2 separate regions of the Homo sapiens genome follow, and region 2 is linked to region 1. The links come from fine-mapping of genetic effects on gene expression. A gene starts in region 1. The other region holds a variant in brackets. All regions are shown on one strand. Distances are between the middles of the regions.

What was found.
Region 2: its variant is fine-mapped to the expression of CYBC1 in fibroblasts (GTEx, PIP 0.97).

What each region holds. Positions count from the first base shown.
Region 1 is chr17:82,448,190-82,452,393 of GRCh38, reverse strand. CYBC1 (cytochrome b-245 chaperone 1) reads left to right here and starts at 1,642. Exons shown (of 7, transcript NM_001033046.4): 1 at 1,642-1,694; 2 at 3,102-3,224. The coding sequence starts at 3,140. RefSeq lists silencers at 1,582-1,941, 3,252-3,301 and an enhancer at 2,572-2,831.
Region 2 is chr17:81,658,252-81,662,701 of GRCh38, reverse strand. It overlaps a transcript of PDE6G not described here. Among named protein-coding and RNA genes, the nearest start is that of PDE6G, 3.9 kb to the right of the region's middle. The variant A/G (reference allele first, on the strand shown) is at 2,022.

The DNA.
Region 1 (4,204 bases):
TTTGTGGAGACCAAGATTTCCATTAAGCAGAGGAAGTCTCCAGGTAGCAGGCTTCAGAGAGAATAGATTGTAAGTGCTTCTTATCAGAGTTCTCCCTGAAGCAGGAAAAAGACCTGGAAAGGAACGGGGATTCGCTACAGAATGTAGATTTTCTTCACAAGGGACAGCTTTGCAGGGCTATTTCAAAATAAGTCGAAGAAATTTAATGTGGGGTAAAGTACTTCCATTTCTTCCAAGGCTTCCTATCTGTCATGTAGTCCTATACCAGAGTCAGGCTGGAATTTGGCGTCATTGCTACAGAGTCTACTTTGTCAACTTCAAGATCTGTTTTTGTTTTGTTTTGTTATTTTTTATTGAGATGGAGTCTCACTCTGTTGCCCAGGCTGGAGAGCAGTGGCACGATCTCGGCTCACTGCAAGCTCTGCCTCCCGGGTTCACGCCATTCTCCTGCCTCAGCCTCCCGAGTAGCTGGGACTATGAGCACCCGCCACCACGCCCAGCTAATTTTTTTGTGTTTTTAGTAGAGATGAGGTTTCACTGTGTTAGCCAGGATGGTCTCAATCTCCTGACCTCGTGATCTGCCCACCTTGGCCTCCCAAAGTGCTGGGATTACAGGCGTGAGCCACCGCACCTGGCCACCTCAAGATCTGTTTTAATGTGAATGCTGGTCAGCTGTGTGCCTGAATTCCAAAAGGGAGGAGGGAGTGAGGTATGTCTGTCTCCCCCTTCCCATCACTGCCTGAGCTAGTTTTTCAGGATAACTTGGGAATGCTCTTGGCCAAGCGGAAGGGTCCATTCAGATGGTTGAGGTTTCGAATTGCTGACTGTATCCTTGTAGAATCCTTTAGTACAGTCTTGTCTTCCACATTTCCAGTAATTCACTCTAGAAGCTTGTTCACATTCAGGTTAAATTTTTTCTGGCAAGACTACTTCATAGTGTTGTGTACTTCTGATATCTAACTGACCTTTTTGCGATGTTAATTAGCAGTCATTGATGACATTGCCTAGGTCCGTTAATTCATAGGGTGATGTTTTAATCCTACTGTTTCTTCTTCATTTATTAGCGGGAAAACTTCTATAATGAGAAATTCTTCTCATGCAGTATTTGGTTACTCTGCTGTAAATTTCATAAAGGCAGGACAAATGCTTGATGCTTTCCTTTTATTAACCAGGCCACAAACTGGGGTGAGCTTACCAGCATCCTCCAAAGGTGAACAGAGTTAAAAAATACATTATTATGAATTACAGACTGGAGCATCTGAGGATTTTAAATTCACTCGAATTCCTGTTCTTATTCATGCTCAAATCTTCTTTTTTGGCAATGAGAACCGCTTCAGTTTCGCTTCTATGTTAGCAAGACGTTCATAGTCCTTGGTAAGTTCTTTGCTGTCGGATACGTTTCCCCGCACGTTTCTTTTTTTCAAGAAAACTGGCTTCTTTAGCAGGAACCACCCGCCTCCTCCTGCGGCTCCGCCCGGATCCCGGAAATCCGCTCGGCTCCGCCCCATCCAGGAAATGCTTGCGGCCCCGCCCCAATCCCGTAAGCGCGCGCGGCCCCGCCCCCAATCCCGGAAGCGCGCGCGGCCCCGCCCCCGAAAGTCGGCTCGGCTCCGCTCCAATCCCGGAAGTGCGCGCGGCCCCGCCCCCGCCGGTTCGCGTCTCTCTGCTGCGGCGCGGGGACCGCTGTGCTCTCGGTAGGCGGCTGGGCTGGGTGGGCTCCGCACTTCCTTCCCGCTCCGTGCCGCGCGTCCCGGCACCCTTAGGCCCACTCCGGGAGGGGTCTGCGTCCTGGGCCCGCCTGCCGGCTGTTCCGTGTCCCGCCGTGCCCGTCGCGGGCGGCCTCGCGCCTGTTCCGCTGCAGGTTGGCCCCGGCGGCGGGAGCGCCCCCGATCCGGACAAAGAAACGAGCGCTCGGTGCGACTAGCGGCGCGGGCGGCTTTGCCAGCGCGCGTGTGCTTGTGTCCGCGAGTGTGCGTGTGTGTGTGCATTTGGATGTGGAATGCCGGGTGTTTCGGGAGCAATGAGGCAACTGAGGCCCGGGAGGGAGCCCAGTCATATACCAGCATCTAGGATTGGTTTGTGTGATTTGAACCCACTATTTTTTATTTTTTTGAGACACGGTCTCACTCTGTCACCCAGGCTGGAGTCCAGTGGCACGATTTCTGCTCACTGCAGCCTCCACCTCCCGGCCTCAGGTGATCCTCCCAGCTCAGCCTCCTGAATAACTAGGACCACAGGCGTACACCACCACACCGGGCTGTTTTATGTATTTTCTGTGGAGACGGGGTTTCGCCACGTTGCCCTGGCTGGTCTTGAACTCCGTGACTCAAACAATCCGCACGCCTCGTCCTCCCAAAGTGCTGAGATTACAGGCCTGAGCCACCGCGCCCAGCCTGAACCCCCTACTTAATGTCAGAAATTTGATTTGACTTCACAGGGAAAGCCCTGAGAAACTACCAGAACGGGGTCCCTGGGGCCAGTGTTGGGAGCGTACGGTGAAGTGGCAGGGCTGCTGCGCCCGTGCGGAACTCCGCTGTGGAAGATTAGCCCCTTTGGTGACTCGTCGGTTCTGGCCGCTTTGGGACCCTCTACTGTGCAGTCTGAACTTTCAGCAGGTGGAGGAGGGCAGAGAGAGAGCTGAGATCGTTGGTCCATGCCAGTGCGAGAGCCAGTACGGCCGGAAGCCATGATGGGACTTTCAGTTCCTTTCTTGGTGGAGGCCAGCACAGGGGAGAGGGGGTGCCCACAGATGCTAGAAGCTTAAAGGCTGCTGGGGGCTAGCGGCCTCAGGACATAAGGTTTCCAGACAGGACGGGGCAGGTGGTGATGCAGCTGTAGCTCGTGAGTCTGAGCGGGAAACAGCCCCCGCGCAGTCGGTGTCGCTGTGAACGGAAAAGGGCCTTCCTTACACAGGAAACGGGGTCTCTGGGGGATCCAGTGACGTGCCCAACCACAGAGACCAGGTGAGACTGGCTGATGGTGTCTGGGGCTGCAGGTGACTTAGTTGGGGGACCTGCTCTTGGCCTCCAGACTGGGCCTGATGGCGTGGGCGCCTGCCTGTGTGCAGGCCCAAGGGCTCAGCTGCCTCTGTCTGTTCCCAGACCCCTCCTCCTGTAGAGAGTGGTGCTGCCCTCTCGGGATGTACCTGCAGGTGGAGACCCGCACCAGCTCCCGCCTCCATCTGAAGAGGGCTCCAGGCATCCGGTCCTGGTCCCTGCTGGTTGGTAAGGCTCTCCACGTCCCTCCCCAGAACCCCAGAACCGGAAGCCTGACTTTCAAAAAGGATGAAAATGAAACAAAATATTTTCTCTTTTTTCTATTACCTTGAAATCTAATGGCTATTTTGTTTCTTTGTATCCATTCAAATTCTATCTGGTGTACTTGGTTTTACAGATAATGCATGTCTGTTTTGTCCCCTTTTAATCACTAACACCCAGCGTATTTAATATACTCTATGAGCTTTTCTGAGGTCACCATATTTTCCTTTGTACTTGTTTTGAACCACGTGATGGGTGATCGTGGGTTCCCATGTCTCCTCCTCCCTGGTCCTCAGACCTCTTCGTAGGACTCACAGTCCACTAACCACGTGATGGGTGATCGTGGGTTCCCATGTCTCCTCCTCCCTGGTCCTCAGACCTCTTCGTAGGACTCACAGTCCACTAACCACGTGATGGGTGATCGTGGGTTCCCATGTCTCCTCCTCCCTGGTCCTCAGACCTCTTCGTAGGACTCACAGTCCACTAACCACGTGATGGGTGATCGTGGGTTCCCATGTCTCCTCCTCCCTGGTCCTCAGACCTCTTCGTAGGACTCACAGTCCACTAACCACGTGATGGGTGATCGTGGGTTCCCATGTCTCCTCCTCCCTGGTCCTCAGACCTCTTCGTAGGACTCACAGTCCACTAACCACGTGATGGGTGATCGTGGGTTCCCATGTCTCCTCCTCCCTGGTCCTCAGACCTCTTCGTAGGACTCACAGTCCACTAACCACGTGATGGGTGATCGTGGGTTCCCATGTCTCCTCCTCCCTGGTCCTCAGACCTCTTCGTAGGACTCACAGTCCACTAACCACGTGATGGGTGATCGTGGGTTCCCATGTCTCCTCCTCCCTGGTCCTCAGACCTCTTCGTAGGACTCACAGTCCACTTAGCCTCCCGTCCTCCATCGCTACCCACCAGTAGGGTCCTGTACCCTTGGGGACAGC
Region 2 (4,450 bases), 790 kb after region 1:
ATGAGTTGTTTAGTTAGTGAGAGCTATAAACCAAAAGTATCTGAGACAGGCCTCAATGAATCTACTTACTGATTTATTTGAGATGAAGTTTTGCTCTGTGGCCCAGGCTGCAGTGCAGTGGCGCGATCTCGGCTCACCACAACCTCCACCTCGCGGGTTCAAGCGATTCTCCTGCCTCAGTCTCCCAAGTAGCTGGGACTACAGGCGTGCCCCACAGCGTCTGGCTAATTTTTATATTTTTAGTAGAGACGTGGTTTTGCCATGTTGGTCAGGCAGGTCTCCAACTCCTGACCTCAAGCCATCTGCCCACCTCAGCCTCCTGAAGTGCTAGGATTACAGGTGTGAGCCACCATGCCTGGCCAATTTATTTATTTTTTATTTCAATACTTTTTGGGGAACAGGCAGGTTTTGGTTACAGGGATGAGTTCTTTAGTGGTCAATAAGTTTGGAAAGGTTATTTTGCGAAGGTTGACGACATGCCTGTGACAGCCTCAGGAGGTCCTGGCAACATGTGCCCAACGTGGACACATGTTGCTTTTATACTTTTTAGGGAGACATAATACATCAATCAATACCTATCATATGTACATTGGTTTGGTCAGGAAAGGAGGGACAACTTGAAGGGAGGGGGCTTCCAGGTCATAGGTAGATTTAAAGATTTTCTTTTTTTTGAGACAGAGTCTCGCCCTGTCACCCAGGTTGGAGTGTAGTGGTGCGATCTTGGCTCACTGCAACCTCTGCCTCCCGGGATTAAGTGATTCTCCTGCCTCAACCTCCCGAGTACCTAGGATTACAGGCACCTGCCACCATGCCCGGCTGATTTTTTTTTTTTTTTTTTTTTTTGAGACAGAGTCTCACTCTGTCGCAGGCTGGAGTGCAGTGGCGCAATCTCGGGCTCACTGCAACCTCTGCCGCCCAGGTTCAAGCGATTCTCCTGCCTCAGTCTCCCAAGTAGCTGGGATTACAGGCACCCACCACCACGCATGGCTAATTTTTGTAGTTTCAGTAGCAACGGGCTTTCACCATCTTGGCCAGGGTTGGTCTTGAACTCCTGACCTTGTGATTCACCCGCCTCAGCCTCCCAAAGTGCTGGGATTACAGGCGTGAGCCACTGCACCCGGCATGCCTGGCTAATTTTCGTATTTTTAGTAGAGACGGGGTTTCACCATATTGGCCAGGCTGGTCCCGAACTCCTGACCTCAGGTGATCCACCCACCTCTGCCTTCCAAAGTGCTGGGATTACAGGCATGAGCCACTGTGCCTGGCTGGCTTTCAGGCTTTTTGTCTTTGGCTTGAAGGTGGGGTTTCACTGGGGACCTGCCCGTATCTGCCTAGGCATTCGACTGCCTCCTGCCACCATCAGGCATAGCTCACTGCAGCCTCAACCGCCAAGGCTGAAGTGATCTTCCCATCTTAGCCTACCAAGTAGCTGGGACTACAGGCAAGTGCCACCATGCCCGGTTCATTGTTTTTTGTCTGTGTCTGTATGTGGAGATGGGGGTCTTCCTACGTTGCCCAAGTTGGTCGTAAACTCCTGGGCTCCTGCCTTGGCCTCCAAAGTGCTGTGATTACAGGTATGAGCTACCATGCCCAGCCTACAAAACAATTTTTAAAAACTTAGCTGGGCATGGTGGTGTGTGCCTGTAATCCCACCTACTTGGGAGGCTGAGGCAGGAGGATCACTTGGGCCAGGAAGTCAAGACGGAAGTAAGTCATGATTGCCTCACTACACTCCAGCCTGGGTGGCAGAGACCCCTGTCTCTAAAAACAAAACAATCACACACACAATCATATTCATAGTTCAACATGAGCACTTGAAGTAATTAAAGACCCCAGGGCAGCACACAGAATCTGCTTAGCCTGTAGATAGAGAACACAAGAAAAGCCATGGCAAAAAACTACGTATGTCCGGCCGGGCACGGCAGCTCACGCCTGTAATCCTAGCACTGTGGGAGTCTGAGACGGGCGGATCACTTGAGTCTAGGAGTTTGAGACCACCCTGGGCAACATAGTGAGACTCT[A/G]TCTTTACAAAAAATACAAAAATTAGCCGGGTGTGGTGGTGAGCACCTGTAGTCCCAGCTACTCAGGAGGCTGATGTGGCAGGATTGCTTGAGCCTGAGGAGGTCAAGGCTGCAGTGAGTTTGTTTGTTCTCAAAAAACAAACAAAAAACAGTTTATAGTCTTTATACACAGCCGCTTTGGGAAAGCTCCATTCCTTAACTTGTGCTTGTCTTGGTCTTCCTGTGTGTAGTTACTGCTGTAGAAAAGTATTAATAGCTTCATTTTTTTGTTTTGAGACAGAGTCTCTGTCGCCCAGGCTAGAGAGCAATGGCACAATCTCTGCTCACTGCAACCTCCACTTACCGAGTTCAAAAAATTCTCCTGCCTCAGCCTCCCCAGTAGCTAGGATTAAGGCACCTGCCACCACGCCTGGCTAATTTTTTGTATTTTTAGTAGAGACAGGGTTTCGCCATGTTGGCCAAGCTGGTGTCGAACACCTGGCCTCAGCTGATCCACCTGCCTCAGCCTCCCAAAGTGCTGGATTACAGGTGTGAGCCACCGTGCCCAGCCTAATAGTCTCATTTTGTTTCTTTTCTTTTTTTCTTTTCTTTTTTTGAGATGAAGTTTCGCTCTTGTTGCCCAGGCTGAAGTGCAATGGCACGATCTTGGCTCACTGCAACCTCTGCCTGCTGGGTTCAATCGATTCTCCTGCCTCAGCCTCCTGAGTAGCTGGGATTACAAGCATGCACCACCACGCCCGGCTAATTTTGTATTTTTGTAGAGACAGGTCTTCTCCATGTTGGTCAGGCTGGTCTCCAACTCCTGACCTCAGGTGATCCGCCCACCTTGGCCTCCCAAAGTTCTGGGATTACAGACGTGAGCCAATGTGCCCGGCCTAATAGTTTCATTTCATGTAAACATAAGTAACTTCCAAGCAATTACGTAGAGGGCTAAAATTGTACCTGGTATTTAAGTCATCAGAACCGGTTCTGCAAGTGACTGTGTTTTGCATTATTGTGAAGATATGAAAATGTGGTGAACGACAATTTAAAGAGTGTTCCACATCACCGTTTAATTTCTTTTTTATTATTTATTTATTTTTGAGATGAAGTCTTCCTCTGTCGCCCAGGTTGGAGTGCAGTGGCGCCATCTCAGCTCACTGCAACCTCCGCCTCCCGGGTTTAAATGATTCTCCTGCCGCAGCCTCCCTGGCAGCTGGGACTACAGGCGCCCGCCACCACGCCCCACTAATTTTTTTAGTTTTAGTAGAGATGGGGTTTCACTATATTGCCCAGGCCGGTCTCAAACTCCTGACCTCAGGTGGTCCAGCCACCTCGTCCTCCAAAAGTACAGGGATGAGCCACCATGCCTGGCCTATTTTACTATTTCAGAGTTGAGGTCTCGCTCTGTCACCCAGGTTAAAGTGCAATGGTACAATAATAGCTCTCTGCAGCCTTGAATTCCTGCAGCCACCGATATTTCACTTCTGCATTCCAGCCTAGGTGACAGAGCCAGATCCTGTCTCTCAAAAAAAAAAAAAAAAAAAAAAGATATGGATTGCAATCTTGTTTCCTCTGGGGCTGAGTGAGGGATTGAGCCATGTGGGACAAGAGGTTTTTGACTTGTTCCATTTATTGCAGCATAACTTGAATCCAGCCGTCCTTTCTGGACTAGTGATTTTTGCCAGTCTCATGGCTAGAGTTTTACAATCAAGGCTATAGGGTCTTTGTTTAGGTCTATTTGGAGCTTTATGTATTTTCATGTGATTGTCTTTGTATATTGTCTGTGATACATGATACCAAAAAAGGAGTACTCATACATTTTATTTTATTTTACTATTTATATTTTTATTATTATTTTTTGAGACAGAGTCTCACTGTTGCCCAGGCTGGAGTGCAGTGGTGCAATCTCAGCTCACTGCAACCTCCACCTCCTGGGTTCAAGCGATTCTCCTGCCTCAGCCTCCTGAGTAACTGGGACTACAGGTGCATGCCACCACGCCCAGCTAATTTTTGTATTTTTAGTAGAGACAGGGTTTCACCATGTTGGCCAGGCTGGTCTTGAACTCCTGATCTCAAGTAATCCACCTGCCTCGGCCTCCCAAAGTGCTGAGATTACAGGCGTGAGCCACCATGCCCGTCCAGGTTTTATTTTTAATTTTTCAAAATTTTCATATTTCTTCAGAGATAGGGTCTCTCTCTGTCCCCCAGGCTGGAGTGGTTTGACCATGGCTCACTGCAGCCTCGAGCTCCTAGGCTCAAGGGATCCTCCTGCCTCAGCCTCCCAAGTAGCTGGGTCTATAGAAGTGAGCCACTGTGGCCAGGCACGGTGGCTCACACCTGTAATCCCAGCACTTCGGGAGGCCAAAGTGGGCAGATCACGAGGTCAGGAGATTGAGACCATCCTGGCTAACATGGTGAAACCCTGTCTCTACTAAAAATATTAAAAA